Linked DNA regions of Homo sapiens: region 1 is linked to region 2. Evidence: fine-mapped expression QTL. A gene starts in region 2. The other region holds a variant in brackets. All regions are shown on one strand. Distances are between the middles of the regions.

Region 1 (8,347 bases), 47 kb before region 2:
AGACTTTTATTAATGTTAGAAAGAATTGAAGCTTTGCATTAAAATTATATTTTGTATTATTAGCATTTTGCGTAAATGTATTTCCTCACAAAAAATAAATGAAACATAATAAGAGCCACAGGTACACACACAGACAAATGGACATAAGTAGCTTATCGTTCTGTTAAGTAGTCATCTGCACTTTCTTTAAATAATTTCTGGAAATGTTATGTCTTAAAAATACTGTACACCAATCATTCAAATTACATGTTTGGTAAACTTTGTACTTCACAGATTACATTTTATGGCTATTAAATAAATGAAAGGATTGATTTTCTCTATCACAATCATTATTAAATATATAATTAAGGGGCATATAACTTTCTGTGTACTTCCAAAATACCTGAGTTTCTGAATTTCATTTGGAATAAAAGTAAGTTCATTATAGGAAACATCAAGTTCTTCAAGATAAGACAAGGAAAATAACCTTAAATAGAAAGAGAAAATTAATTGTAGAAATGATTATGTATCACCACTGGGAATAAATAAGTACTTGAGTAAGTAGGCAGGAGTATAGAAACCAGATTTCTAAGATCTTGAAATTTATATGGACTTCTTTTCATTATAGATCGTGTAATTACTATGAAAATTCCTAAGAATTACTCATCTATCCATTAAGACCAGTTTGAGATTTTTGGAGTGGACAAAGCCCTATTTAGAAAAATTTTCATTATCACTAAGATACTTTTTTGTTGTTGTTGTTGCATTAGTTTCCTAACAAATTACCATAATCTGGGTGGCTTAAAGTAACAGAAATGTATTTTCTCACAGTTCAGGGCGCCAGAAGTCGAAATGAAGGTATTAGCAGGGCTGGTTCCCTTCATAGGCTCTGAGGGAGAAACTGTCCCTTGCTTCTCCCCCAGCTTCCAGTGGTTGCCTGCCATCTTTGGCATTCCACGGCTTGTGGAAGCATAACTCCAACCTCTGCCTTTGTCTTCACATGCCTTTCTTATAGGGACAATAGCCATTGAATTTGGGGCTCACCCTTATCCAAGTTAGTATAAGTATGACCTTATATTAACTAACTGCATCTGCAAAGACGCTATCTCCAAATGAGGTCACATTCTGAGGTTCTATAAGGACATGAATTTCCGAGGGATGCTATTCAACCCACTACAATTGCATTAAGACTTTTCTAGTAAAATACCTTTAATCTTTCTTTCCATCAAGACAAGTACTTAAAGGTGAGAACCAAAGAATACAAACACTCTGCAAAAACATAGTTGTGCTGTCAGAAGCCCTGACTCCTAGGGGTTGGATGGAAGTGGGAATTGCTTCTTGAAGACTGGAATTGAAGGGCTCAGTATCATAGTCATCATAATCCCTAGTAAACACCCCCTTCTCTGTATGTGCTGTTCTCAAAGACTTTCTTGTTTTCCATGTAAATAAAAGGTGAGAAGTTATTTGTATGATTTTTAACTAAGGCATCATGAGCAGAATTTTTCGCCAACTTCTTACTGTCTTAACATGGCATATAAAGGTCCTCATGATCTGGTCCCATGCTACTTGTCCAGCTTGCCTCTCACAATCCCCCATATTCCTCTGTGGTCCAGCATTTATTTGCTAAAATTCCCTGAATTAACCAGTTATCACATATCTCTAAATAACACGTAAAATTTCCCCAAGCTTGACTCTGATCATTGTCTTTTCATTTTTTGTCTTGGCTCAGATGTCATCTCTTCCAACAAACTCTTCCCAAATCCTTCAGACTGGGTGAGATGCCTCTTCTGTACTTCTCTGCTTACTCTCTCATAGTACCCATCACATCGTGCAATAAACGTCTGCCTCCTAAAATTATGAGCTTCTAGAGGGCACGGATTCAATTTCATATTTCTATACATCCAGTGCCTTACATGCTGTCTAGTACATCGTAAGTGCTGAGTAAATCATAACTGAATGAAAGGAATGGTGACCCCAGTTAATTTAAAATAATTTGCTCTGAGAAGTTAATGAGACTGACTAGGAAAACAAAGGAAATGCCTATTCAATTCAGTGTTCATCTCTGACTTCTTATCATCTCTGTAAAGAAAATGTTAATACCATTTGCTCTATCTTTCAATTCAATATCATATCATTTTCTTGCCTCAGGCAGTTTCTGGAGTCATTCTATCTTCCCTATTACCTTGGCTCTGGCAACCTAGTTTGGTTCCAGGCTTTCACTATGGATGACATATTCCTGCTGATTGTGAGATGTAACAGGTGTAGGCAGCACTGAGGAAGCTGAATAGGTTCTAGAGTTGAAATTTATGTCATCTATATATGATTTTTACAGAGAAAATCTGTTCAGACAGCCTGTTTGGTCTGATACTCTATGTCCCACCAGTACCAAATCTATCACATTTTTTAGGATATGTAAAACTTTTTACATTTATTTCATTGCTTGATTTATTAGCAAATTATTGGCCAATGAGCTGCCTAAACTAGAGCCCTACTGTTAGCTTGCAAGATTAGACTAGCAATAATAATTTCATGTATTAACAGTGATGACCACCACACTGATATAAATATTTATTAAAAGCCTACTATATGGTAATTTAGAATGATCTTTTAACATACCAGTGTAGGATTGTTTTTTACAGGTTAAAAAAATGGAAGCTATAAGAGGTTAAGCAATGTATCCAATTTGGTATGAAATAAAATGTAGCTATCCCTTTTCATCAGATATGTGGAGGCAAGGTAATTTAATCCCCTTCTTTAATAAATAACAATATGGGAAAATAAATGTGTACAATTTCAGATCTGCTGTTAAGACACGGCTTTCAAATAGGCTGTTCGGTTCTTTTTGTTCCAAATAGTTTCTCTTTCCCGAAGAACCTACCTGCCAATTAAAGTAAATTGAGTCAAACAAGTAAGGCAAAGATTTGACTCCCTCAGTTGAAGTAGCTATTTCCTATGTCATTTTTCTCCTGCTATCCACTGAGAAAAAGATAAAGACTTTTTGTTTTAACCTTTGTGACAGTTGTTTCTGCATAACCTCAGGGCATGAGTCTAAAACATGTCTCTGTCCTTCACCCCACCTCCCTTTTTCTCCCTTTTTTATCTTTTCTACAAAAGCTTTGGGAACAGGAAAAAAAAACATTTGGATTTTTGAAGTGATTTATTATCTTCATTTTATAAGAGAGTTGAAAAGACAAATCAAAGAGCTTTTCATAGTAATAAAGTTCTAAGCATAACATGGGAGTGTTGATCCACTGGCCACTAATAGGAGGCCCCTGTTCTTTCTCCCACAGAAGCTGAGCTTTCCTGCCTCCATGCTGCCTCACACAGTATGCCCTAAGTTGCTCAAAGCAAAACCTTAGGAACGAAAATGTAGGCCTCAGTAAATGTGTGCTTTACTCAAATAGAACTTTTTTCTTTATTAACTTCTAATTTGCCCTATATTGAAACAATCAATTGTTACATAATTTCAAAAATATTGCATATTTTATTTTATTTTAGAAATTTAGGTCAAGGAAAAGAGACTAATCTGTGAAAATAATTGAAAGGATTTTAAAAATAATTTACAAGATTTTTTTTTTTTTTTTTTTTGAGACAGAGTCTTGCTCTGTCACCAGGCTGGAGTGCAGTGGTGTGATCTTGGCTCACTGCAACCTGCAACTCCCCTGGTTCAAGCGATTCTCCTGCCTCAGCCTCCTGAGTAGCTGGGATTACAGGCACACGCCACCATGCCCAGCTAATTTTTGTATTTTTAGTAGAGATGGGGTTTCACCATGTTGGCCAGGATGGTCTCGATCTCCTGACCTCGTGATTCGCCCACCCCGGCCTCCCAAAGTGCTGGGATTACAGGCGTGAGCCACCATGCCCAGCCAATTTACAAGATTTTCTTACCTAATTTTTGTAACATCCTTGAAGACAAGTATAAGTTTTCTAAACTTTCAGATGGAAACTGAAGTTAAGAGTAGGTCAGGGCTGGGTGCGGGGGCTCACGCCTGTAATCCCAGCACTTTGGGAGGCCGAGGTGGGCAGATCACAAGGTCAGGAGTTCAAGACCAGCCTGGCCAATATGGTGAAACCCCGTCTCTACTAAAAATACAAAAAATTAGCCAGGCATGGTGGCGCATGCCTGTAATCCCAGCTACTTGGGAGGCTGAAGCAGGAGAATTGCTCGAACCTAGGAGGCAGAGGTTGTGGTGAGCCAAGAT[C/G]GTGCCATTGCACTCCAGCCTGGGCAACAAGAACAAGACTCCGTCTCAAAAAAAAAAAAAAAAAAAAAAGAGTAGGTCACTGGCTTGCTAGAGTTTGTAGCATATATGGGACAGAACTTGCCTCTGAAAGTGTCTTGCTTTTTCTACTCTATCACTTTGAGTCTCATGAAACTAGAAAGATCTTGTTAGGAATGGAAAGATAACAGTGAAAGTACTCCATTACACTTTTAGTAAAACTTTGAGAAGGTACCAAAATAATATATCTGGGAAAAAAAATATATGCATATTTTAACATATGGAAACTATAAGAAAAAGACTAATAATGAAAAGAATTAAAAAGACAATCTTTTAAATACAATGCTTAGCCACCAAAATAAACAACCATTTTTCTATGTTAGATAATATCTAGAAAAAATATGTATCTTAATTTAAATCCTAACACTAGGGCTTCAAACAAATTGAGTAACCAATTGTTTTATTTAATAAAATACTGTTAAATTAGACTTGAACTGCTAAATTTACATCACAAACCCCCACTTTGTTCCAGTGTCCCTTTCTCAATAAGGCCTACCTTAGCTATCCCACTTAAAATCACACTCTCACTCCCTTTTACTGTTTGTTCTTTTTCATATCACTTATTACCTTCTCACATACTATATAATTTATTTATTACATATATTGACTGTCTCCTCCTGGGGGAATGTGATCCCACAAGAGTTGAAATCTTTGACTGGTTTTATTTTAGTTTGCTGTTACTGCCATTAACAAATTGCAACACAAACAGTGGCGTACAACAACTCAGATTTATTAATTATAGTTATATAGGTCAGAAGTCTGCAAAGGTCTCACTCTACTAAAATTAAGGCATCAGCAGGACTGCATTGCTATCTGGAGGCTCTAGGGAGAATCTGTTTTCTTACTCATGCAGGCTGTTGGCAGAATTCAGTTCTTTCCGGCTGTAGAACTGAGGCCCTTGTTTTCTTGTTGGCTGTATGCTGAAGGCCATTCCCAGGTTTTCAAGCTGCCTCATTCCTTGACTCATGGCTCCCTTCCTCCATCTTCAAAACCAACAAAAGCAAGTCAAGTCCTCAGGTGGTATCTCTCTGACAAATGCTTCTGCATCCCCCTTCCATTTTTAAGAGCTCATGTGATTTGATTGGGACCACTCAACTAATCCAGAATAATCTCCCTACTTTAAGATCAGCTGATTAGAACCCTTAATTTCATCTCCAAACTTAATTTCCCTTTGCCATGTAATATAACATATTCACATGTTCTGGTAGAATATGAACATCTTTGGGGACCATTATTCGCCCTATCACAGTTCATCCCTAAAGATTCACATCTATCCCACATGCAAAATACATTCACTTATCTCAATTTCCCGAAAGGTTAACCTTTACAGCATCAACTCAAAGTTCAACATCTCATCTAAATCTCAAAAGTCCCATATCTCATCATCTAAATTAGGTATAGGTGAGGCTCCAGATATAACCCATCCAGAAGCACAACTTTTCTCCATTTGTGGATCTATGAAATTAAAGAAACAAGTTATCTGCTCTCAAAATACAATGGTGAGACAGGCATAGGATAAGTTATAGATATTCTGGTTCAAAAGGGAGAAAATGAAAGGTAAACAGGAATTACCAATTCCAAGCAATTTTGAAATAGGACTGAGTAAACTTCATCTGGTTTCAAGGCCTGGGAATAATCAGCAGCAGCTCCCAGCTCTGCCACCTGCTTTCCAGTTTCTGCCCTCCTGGCTTCTGGCTCTGTCTTTTAGAATCACAGCTCCACCTTCGGTGCTCCTGGTTTCATCCTCCCCAGTTCCTGGCACCACCCTCTGAATCACCCTCCCTTTTTCATGAAAGTTGGCACATATATTCAGCTGTTTCCTGCCCATGGAATTTTGGAGATCTGACAGCCTTTTTTCATTTCATACTGTCTTTGTCCTTCTTAATACACTCTGGCAACATTTCTATTAGTATAAAATCTTCAAGAACCTAGTGGGTTTCCCATGTATATCATGGGTATTCATTCCATAAGACAAAAGACTTGTCCACAAATTTCGTTCCTAGTTAATCCCATTTCTATTTTTGACTTTGCTGAAATGGCTGAGGCCATGTGACATGAGGTCATCATTAAAAAGGAATGGAATACTGATATATACAACATGGGTGAATCCCCAAAATGTATGTTGAGTGAAAGATGTCACACTCAAAAAATCATTTGTTGTATCAATCAACTTTTATAATTTTCCAGAACAGGTGAAATAAGTCTATGATGTTAGAAGTCTGGGAATTGACTAGAAATGTACATGGGGACATTTCTAGGGTAAACTTTCTAGGATAATGGGAATACCCCATATCTTGTTTTGGATAGTAGTTATATGGGTGCGTATATTTGTTAAACACTTTAAATCAAATACCTAAGATTTGTGCATTTTATTGTATATAAATTATACCTAAAAATTTTAGAAAGAAGGAAGACTAGGAGGAAAGATGAAAGCATTGAGGTTACTAATAACTATATATATATATATATATATTTGAGGCAGGGTCTTACTCTGTTGCCCAAAGCTCACTGCAGCCTCAACTTCCCAGGCTCAAGTGATCCTCCCACCTTAGCCTCCTATGTAACTGGGACTACAAGTACATACCACTGTGCACAGCTAATTTTTCGTATTTTTTTGTAGAGATGGGGTTTTACCATGTTGCCCAGGCTCTATGTATTTTTTGTTATAGTAAAATATAGATAACATAAAATCTGCCATTTTAGCCATTGTTAAGTGTGCCATTCAGCAGCATTAATTACAATTACAGTATTATGCAACCACCAGCACTATATGTATTTCCAGAACTTTCCCATCATCCCAAACAGAAACTCTATATCCATTGAACAGCTACTCCCAATTCTCCCCTCTCTGCTATACCTGAGCCCCCAGTAACCTATATTCCACTTTCTGTGTCTGTAAATTTGTCTATTCTAGGTACCTTATATAAGCACAATAACACAATGTTTATCCTTCTGTATCTGACTTATTCCACCTAGCATAATGTTTTCAAGGCTCATTGTTGTTGTAGCATATACTAGCATTTCATTCTGTTTTCAAGATGAATAATGTTCTATGTATGTATATATCACATTTTGTTTATTCATTAATTAATCTGTTAATGGACATTTGAGTTACCACCTTTTGATTATTGCGAATAAAAACAATTAGGTTTTCCACTGTTTTGTTGATGGACATTTGAATTGCAGACTTTTTCAGGATATTGCAGATAAAACTGCTATGGACATTCCCAAAGAAGTCTTTTTATGGAGGCTAAAATCTACCTTCTCCATCTTACACATGAATGACTGAGCTACTGAAGATAATCAGCAGAAATGCAGATTCGTGTCACCATGAATCCTTGGTTTCCAGTCTCAGCTAAGCCCACAGCATCATCTCTCAAACATTCACTTTCCTGTGCTCTGTTCTTTTCTGTTCCTCTCAATATCAACACTAAATCATCACAACTTTCTTTAAAACTTCTTTTCAATCATTATTCTTCTTGCTCTCAAAGATTATCTGAAGTTATTTCATAGTAACCTCTCTCAACTGATGCATTATAGGAGCTAAATAAATCTTTGTTGACTAAATGAATTTCCTGTTTTCTTACCCATATAACTATATATTTTACATGTTCATTTTTAGGACCTACCTCCAGTTTTAGGAGATAATGGTTACTCCTCCTGTTCAAGACCAGAATCTCCACCTGAGCTGATGACTTCTTCCCCTCCCATCTCCTGTGAAATTCTGCTTCATCTGTCATCCTTCCACATCTTCAATCTATTCCCTATTGGTTTCTTTCCAACATCCTGTAAATATGCCCGAGTCTTTAAAAAACTAACAATAAAAATGTTTCTAAGATCCCACTTTCTCTATAGCTTTTGTCTAATCACTCTTCTCACATTGCATCTAAAGCTCTACAAAGAATGGTCTACACTCATTATCACCAATTTCTTCCCATTCCATCACAACCCACTGCAAGCTGGCTTTTATTTCCATCATTCCACTAAAACTGTTCTCACCTTTACTCTTACTGAGCTTCTCTGTTGTATTTGACACTGTTGGTCATACTTCTTTTTCAAAATAATCCACTTCCCTGGCTTCCATGATACTC
Region 2 (8,347 bases):
CCACAATGACATACCATCTCACGCCAGTCAGAATGGCAATTATTAAAAAGTCAGGAAACAATAGATGCTGGCAAGGCTGTGGAGAAATAGGAACACTTTTACACTGTTGGTGGGAATGTAAATTAGTTCAACCATTGTGGAAGACAGTATAAGGATTCCTGAAGGATCTAGAACCAGAAATACCATTTGATCCAGCAATCCCATTACTGGGTATATTCCCAAAGGAACATAAATCATTCTACTATAAAGACACATGCACACGTATGTTTATTGCAGCACTGTTCACAATAGCAAATACATGGAACCAACCCAAATGCCTGTCAGTGATAGACTGGATAAAGAAAATGTGGTACATACACATCATGGAATACTATGCAGCCATAAAAAGGAATGAGATTATGTCCTTTGCAGGGACATGGATGAAGCTGAAAGACATCATCCTCAGCAAACTAACACAGGAAAAGAAAACCAAACACTGTGTGTTCTCACTTGTAAGTGGGAGTTGAATACTGAGAACACATGAACACAGATTGGGGAACAACACACACCAGGGCCTGTTAGTGGGTGGAGGGTGAGGGGAGAAAACTTAGAGGATGGGTCAATAGGTGCAGCAAATCACCATGGCATATGTATACCTATGTAACAAACCTGCACGTTCTGTGCATGTATCCTGCTTTTTTTTTTTTTAGAAGAAATAAAAAAACAAATTTTGATCACCTACTATGTGCAAAGCCCTCTGTCAAGAGCCTTTGGAGCAAGAGAGCTCTGCTTTCCCCACCAAAAAAAAGGAACCATCCAACCTAAAATGTCAATAGTGCCAAGGTTGTGAAATTCTGTACTAGAAGATAAACTTTAAACAAAAGATGAATGGAGAAACTACAAGATAACTGGTAACCTTGAGCTGTAAATCTGCATACTGTATTATTACAGAACAGATTGTAAATGCAGAACATTATAGAAATGTAGAAATGATGATGTAAAAATCATGTAACAAAAGTTGGGAGAGAAAGTAGGAGAGGAAATTGTGGCAGTATTACAGGTAAGTTGAGTTACCTACTGTTAATAGCCATAGGTCAAAAGATGATAATTTAACATTATAAATCAAGTTATAGACTAGGTATATTTGAACAGTATAAATGTTGACACTAAAACTGCAATCAACTAAAATCAGATGGAAGAGGAAACTGAGAAGGGGAAAATGAGAAAATATGCTAATTGTATTGCTTATAATAAGGAGGGAATAGAAACCATACAACAGAAATAGAGGATTAAGCATTAGATAAAGTTATAGTTATAAAAGTGGCTCATCTTTACTTCATAGCACTTATCACAGGGTAATTTTGCATTTACTTATATGATTGATTGATTACAATCAGTATCCCAGTGGGTAACTAATGAAGGGAACAGGTAAGGTCTGTTTTTGCTCACTAAATATATTCGGTCCTTGTTATTTGCAGTAGTTCTGTTCTACAAACAATGAATTACTCATTACTGAACCATTTCTCCTGGAAGAAATATGGGGCTAGGTTCCTGCAAACCTCTGGTTTCAACATTTTCATCAACTGATCAACACTAATTTTGTTTTATATTTGTTTCTATTTAAAGACACTTTAATAAATATAAACAGTTGATTTGTTAACATTGAACTTAGGGCCAACAACACTACTCACACCTGAAGGAAACTTATCTAACACATATCTTGTTCTCTGTAAGGCCCATCACAGCCTTCTTGTGCTCAGGAACACTAGACAGTACTTCAACACTATGCTTGGGGCCCACAGTGAAATCACTAACTAAAAGCACAAACATTCAAGAAACATAGAGCTAAACAGACAGGGAAAACAGTACCCGTTTACAATATGAGAGCTGAAACAAGAAGGTAGAGGTAGCCTTGTTCCACCTCAGCTGGAGGCATGTGTGTTGGGTGACTCATTTTCAGTGCTCTGCACATATCCACGCATGACTGAGAAAGCCCTTTGAGTACCAATTCTGGGGTTACAAGTAAATTTTATCGATGAGATAAACTTGAATCTACTAAGTCCACCAATAAGTATCAGTAAATGCATCTGTGGAATTGAATTGGATGTTATCACCTGACAACAAACATTTGTAAGTTATTAGTGAGTGTATTTATTGTGATTCTGAGCTGTGCAAGTCAAGGAATTTCTATGAAAGATACATAAATGTTAATACACATATCTGATTAATACACATACCTGTATGGGTTTTTTTCTCATGTAAAGACAGCTTAGTGAATTTTGGAGGTAAGGGTCTTCGAAGAAGCAGTGGGGGCTTTTGCATTTTAATGAATAATAAGTGCTGTTTTTCATAATCCTTGGTTTAAATGAGAATTGAAAAGGTTTTGAATATGTTTGAATTGTTGAAAAATAATAAGAATTTAGATTACATCTTAAAGAAAATCATTCTGTACCAATACTCTACTGAATCCAGGCAGAATTCCTTTATGAAAAAAAAAGAGGGTAAGAAAATAATTCTTTAAAACTTCTATTAATAGAAAGAATCCAGTTAAAATGTAGGGTTATAAGTAAACATAGAATTTTAAAAATATGTGTATTATTACTACCCAGGATCATTCTACAATTTTCCATGTTAGTACAAAGTTCAATTTGCCAATGCTATTTCAACTAGTAAATACTGATTTTTCAGAATAGTCGAAATGACATTTTTTTTCTCTCTCTCCAAAATGTTATCGCTATAAATGTAGAAAGAGAATTTGGTCAGAAATGTGTAGAAGATGCCTTCATTAGATAAGCCTCTGAAGACCCACCATATCTAACCATTCACAAACAAATTGTTTTCTTTCTATAATGGCTTGTTTTTCAACCACTATGCTTGGGCCAAAACAATTCAATCCTAAAATAAGATGGGTTTCACTATAATGAGATTTCCCAGGGCTGCTGGATCCCAACTCATACTGTTTAGAAATAATGCGAGAAGATGCACCCCCAAAATGTGCTTTTAGTTTGCAGGGCAACATCAAAAGTGCCTGGCACGGCATTATTCCATTGATAGCCTAGAAGGGAACACCCTGAAACTGCACAAATGGGCCGTTTACCGCCAAAAGATAACTGCACACAAGCGCTCAAGGTGTACTCCCTGGTCATATGTTCCACACGATGCTGGAAATCTCCCTTCCGTAGTACCCAAAGAGGGGCATGGAAGTGCTGGACTCCCACACTACCCTTTAGGATAATCGGCCGCTTTCCAAACCAACTGGCTTTTCGTCTCCTATCTCCTTTTCCTCGGAATCTAGGCAGCGAGGTAAAGGTCCAGCGAGGGTCTTCCTGCAGGAGGCTGTTCCCGAAGAAGCACCACGGATCCCCACCCTCTAGGAGGCCAAGGAGACACACCCTAGCAACCGGGGTCCGCTAAGCCAGCCCAGCCACTTGACGCGCAGGCGCGGGGGCGGGACAGGCGAGGCGGGCGCGGGACAGGCGAGGCGAGGCGGGCGCCGGGAGGGGCAGGCCCAGCCCACGGTGCAGCGCGCGCGGAGCCCTCGCCTTCCTCCGACGCACTGTGGGGCTGCAGGGGAAGCTGCGGGCCGTGGGGGCCGGAGGAGAAGCCGGCTCCACGCGCAGCTGCTGTACGGAACGCCGTGGTGACAATTGTTATTACTATTTTTATGCTTAATGGCAATGACCACTATTATTTATTATTTTCTCTCGATTACAGGATGCTTTACTTGGGTGTCTAGAATATGGGCTGGCATTCTTTAAGGCTGCACTTTTGTGCAGCCGGGTCCCGGGGCTAATTTTGCAGTGCTCTCGAAAAGCGGGCATTCGGTTTTCTTTCTCTTCCTTTCATGCAACCTGTTTTCTCTTTCTGATCCTTTAAAGTTCCTGGCTGAGGCTGGATTGTGTAGAAATAAGGGCATTAGGGATCCAAGCGGGCCATAAAAGAAACCCATTTCTCACTGTCATCGTCCTCTGTTCTGGTTATCATATTGTGACGTGTCGCCTCTGTCATGGTGTTGATGAACCTGTGTGTGCAGTCATAGATACATCGTGTGTGTTTGCAAAAATGTGCGTGTTTCTCTGGAGATTTGAGGGGGAAAGAGCACTAGAAAGAGCTCATCTGATAGATGCGGAAATCCGAACTCAGAAAGTAAACTAGGTAGAGCTTCCTTCCAGGTTTGGTTTTTTCTAAGTACTAGCGCAGGAACTTTATAACAGAAGTTGGAAAATGAGAGACTTCTGTATAAATCTTTCTAGCTTTGGGGATCTTTCAAGATTCACACCATAACCATGTCTTCCTTTTTCTCCTTAGTAGCAAACATGTTTTAAAACAATCAATGAAAAAAGTAGAAAAGTTTTAACAAAAAAGTAATCAGACTCTGGAAAATATTATGCAACTTGTTTTCCTTTACAGTAGTAGTGTACTGTTTCTTTTCCTTGTAAGTTTACTGTGTCCCAATTATACTGCTGCCCCAGACTATGAATTTATTTCCACTTTTGCTGTTATCTACACCATAGATTCATTAGTTTCTCAGAAATACAAAGCTGAAAATAAAAGGCAGCTCTGTGGCTAAGATTAGTCTCAAGTAATATATATCGTGCATATTTTGTAAATGTGAAAAAAGGTTTATATTTTTAAGCATAAAAAATGACAGTGTAAATTGAGTCAGGTACCTATGCTCTTCAAGATCGTTGGAACCATGAGAACTACAGGAATTCAGTTTTACTGACTGACGTTTGGCCTTTAAAATTTATGCTTAGCTTTGTGTAGTCGAAAGCAAGGCTTCTGAATGCTTTTTCAAAAAATGCTTTGTCACACTTGGAATCCGCAGGCATCCAGGTATCATTCCTTGCAGATTTCTTCTAGCAAGTATGAGACTAAAACCTAGGGCGGTTTAATATGTAATCTCAGGTGTGAACATTTTGTCTTCTATTTCTACCACTTAGTACCAAACATTTAGGCAAATGAGATAGTTATTATGAAAATTAAATCCATGGCTTGGTATATTTTATATGTATATATGTTATTCTAACACATCTGACTCGCTTTGTCTATGGAAATGATATATCAGTATAGGATGAGTTTAGACAGGACAAACAAAATTCAATTTAGATTATTTTATAGTTCTTATATTTTTGAAAATATTATCCCCTCAATTTTCTTTCTTCTTTTGTAAAATAACGTGTTTTTGAAATAATGAATAACTCCCTTTTGGATTTTAAGGGTCTGCTTTTTCTGATGTATGTACGGTCAGCCTATTTATTTGTTCCGTCCCCTTTGCAGTTTGGCAGAACCTTATGAAGAAGCTTCCCAAACTGAACCACAGTGCTTTCACTCTATTAGCAAATTGTACTAAAGATGCCAGCGTAATGATGAGTGCCAAGGTTATAGACATCCTGCATTTTTTAAATGTTGCTAAAATGAGATAAAAGCCTTATGCAGAAGCAACCGCAGGCACCCCGCAGGTAATGCTATCGATTTCCCTAATAAGTGGGAAACGCTTGGGGAACCTTAGATTTGCTGTTGGTTCTGTTGAAATGGTGGAAGTGATGTGAAAAGTGTTGCTAGACAACTTCATTATTTTCCATAGACCTATCTCTTATTTATTTATTTCCCTTTAAAATAGGACAGAGGTTTGCTAAACAGTTTGGCCATTGTAGTTTTAACCTAATATTTTACCTTATGGAAATAATGGAGTAATTTGTGTTTTTATGTTCATATTAATTTTTTTAAGTACTGTTAAAGAATGAATAGTTATTTTTGAGCACATATTTGTTCAACTACTGAGTCTCCAGAGTAACACAGGGCACTAAAATGCTTTTGAGAAAGAAGTGTTTTATTGGTCTGAATTTACCTGTTTATATTAATTATATGTACGGGGAAATGTCTTCTTCAGTCACAGTGGCTTAAATGTACCCACTTATTTCATGTGTTTTCATGCTGTTGCCTAGAGAATAGTTTTATATTTTCTCAAATGTTAATAAAGATATTTTGAAGAAGCTGCTACTCTTTTTATCCCCATATCTCACTGTAAAGACAAACACTTCATTTGTTTTTAATTATTTTCAGCCAATTATTTCTTTTTGTCTTTCAAGGTGATAGTTATTTCCTTTGTTTGAACTGGAGATCCTGGGATTCCTTTAAAAAAATTACTAATAAGGAAATGTCATGCAACCTTTATCATGGAATTAAAAAAAAAATCAAACACAAGGAAAGGACAATGTCTGTCTGTTTTCAAAAGTGCCTTCATGAATTTAGTCATTCATTCCAGAATCATTTATTGGAAACCTACTATGCATAAGTTACTTCACTAGGTGCTAAACTTTAAACTTTATTAAAACAACTTATAATGATTAATTTGAGGCTTTATAATTTAGACATTGAAATGAAATTTTAAATCATTTCCAAAGACTACACTTATCTGCATTATAACTACTTGAGGGTTTTTTTTAAAACAATTTTTTATTTTATTGCTTTGGTAGAATAGTGTTGTTTATTCACACTCCTTTGATTCTCAGAAACATTTTGAGGTTTTTTTTTTAGCTGCAGTGATCATTTTAGACTGTCTGCAACCAGCTAATATTAGATATTTGTATATATTGTATGATTGTGTCCTTCACCAAAAAAAGTTAAATAATATTTGTTTCCTTAATATTAAGCGCTTAGCATGAGCAATGTACATTAGTATGGGGAAGGCACTGTTTTAAATGTTGATTTTATTTTAGCTTCACAATTGTTATATTAATTGAGGATGCTGGCATCTGCATTAAATTTCAAGCACAGGAAGCATAGCACAGCTCTACCCAGCTGGGTTCACATTTGGCTGCCACTTGTCAGCCCTGTGCCCTTGGACCAGCTACTTAACCTAAGCCCCAGGGTTTCCTCATTTGTAAAACTGGGTTAAAATGGTACTTACCAAAGGGTCTTGTGAGGAGTTAAAGAGATAATCTGTGTCAGAGGCTTAGTTCTGTGCCAGCCACAGAGTCAGTGCGCAGTAGATGTTGTTAGAAAATTAAAATAAAACAGCCCAGTTTTCCGGTCTCCACACCCCTGCTTTATGTGATGATAGTTGACGTTAATTGAAATGTTGGAGGGCTATACATCCTGGGCATTTATCCACAAAATTTATCCACAAAATTTCACATTTAACTTTCCTAATGTCTCCAAATGTTGGCAACTCTAGTTTGCAGTTCTCAGACTGTGGCACAAATGCTATGCTCTAGGCAGTGTCCCACATTCTGTCACAGGTCTTTATACTCCTCTGGGCGGCACAGGAGCTGTGGGAGAGCTCGTGCCTGAAGGAGTCCTGGTACAGTGTTGTAAGGAGGCCTTGACTCTCCCCCACGTGAGTTGGGTCTGCGAGCTGCTGTCACCATTGATTGAGCCGGGCTGAATCGATGATGTATTTCAACCGGTAACCCAAGGAAGAAAGCCTCTTTGTTCTCAGCATCTTCCAGGCCACTTGGTGTGCCTAACAAAGGTGAAAAAGGGCTGCAATGTGAAGCTCCTTTGAATGGCTAGAGGGAAAGGTGTTAAATGCACATGATCTTTCTTAGGTTTTTTTCTAATGTGCACACCGGACTTTGGTAGATGAGTCTACTGAGTCCCTGTACTGGCTGGGATTTAGTCCTAAACTTAGGAGGAACATGTACTATATCAATAAAGTGTCTGAACTGCATGCTCTCTATTCAACCCTCAGCAAACACCTGTAGCAATTAGAACCGCAGGTGAGAAAAAATGCTTTATAATGACTTATTCTTCATTCTAATGTCAACATATGACCTTAAACAGTAGATATGATTTCCTTTTCAAACCTAGCATTCTGCTTATGCCTACTGCCCTATTGAGTATATGTTTTATTCGTAAGTACATGAGGCTAAAAGTTGTGTATGGGAGTAAGGGCGGGACATGTAAGAGTCCATTGTATTCTGTGGGTTGAGTGTTGGTAAAGAATTTGTATTTCTTATACCAGAACTAGACAACTAGAAGTGTAACTCACATTTCAGTGTCACATAGTTTAGTATGCTGTTGACAGTTCTGCTACATTTCTGACAATTGCAATCTCCACTTTATAATATGTTGCCAAATTTATAATACGATGCCAAATTTTATCAGGGTAGAATTAAAGTTTCAGGATATTTCTCTCTCCACCCTGCCCCAGGTAGCAGAAAATTTCTTCATTTCCTTTGCCAGGTTTTCCAGGTGAGGTAATCCCTAACCAAGGAAAAGAATATAGTGTCTAGCTCTATTCAGAAGCCATGGGGAAGACAGTTTGTGGGGCTTTATTCTTCTCCCCACTGCAATTCCAAGAAAGCAACTATGCTTGTATGAGTTTGACATATTAGGCTCTGCTGTTTGAAGAAAAGGTCCT

Alleles and levels. Positions count from the first base shown, and alleles are read on the strand shown. Sizes are in standard deviations (SD) of each study's normalised expression.
As copies of G replace C in region 1, the expression in testis of the gene that starts at base 3,408 in region 2 goes down (small effect, 0.13 SD a copy in GTEx).

The links. PIP is the estimated chance that this variant, and not a neighbour inherited with it, causes the effect.
Region 1: its variant is fine-mapped to the expression of LRRC63 in testis (GTEx, PIP 0.97).

Annotation. Positions count from the first base shown.
Region 1 is chr13:46,254,028-46,262,374 of GRCh38, reverse strand. It overlaps LRRC63 (leucine rich repeat containing 63), which reads right to left. Exons shown (of 10, transcript NM_001282460.2): 8 at 383-466. Among named protein-coding and RNA genes, the nearest start is that of LINC00563, 40 kb to the left of the region's middle. The variant C/G (reference allele first, on the strand shown) is at 4,182.
Region 2 is chr13:46,206,989-46,215,335 of GRCh38, reverse strand. LRRC63 (leucine rich repeat containing 63) reads right to left here and starts at 3,408. Exons shown (of 10, transcript NM_001282460.2): 1 at 3,077-3,408; 2 at 2,217-2,334. The coding sequence starts at 2,301. LOC107984578 (a long non-coding RNA gene) reads left to right here and starts at 3,484. Exons shown (of 4, transcript XR_001749863.3): 1 at 3,484-5,441. RefSeq lists a silencer at 3,323-3,652.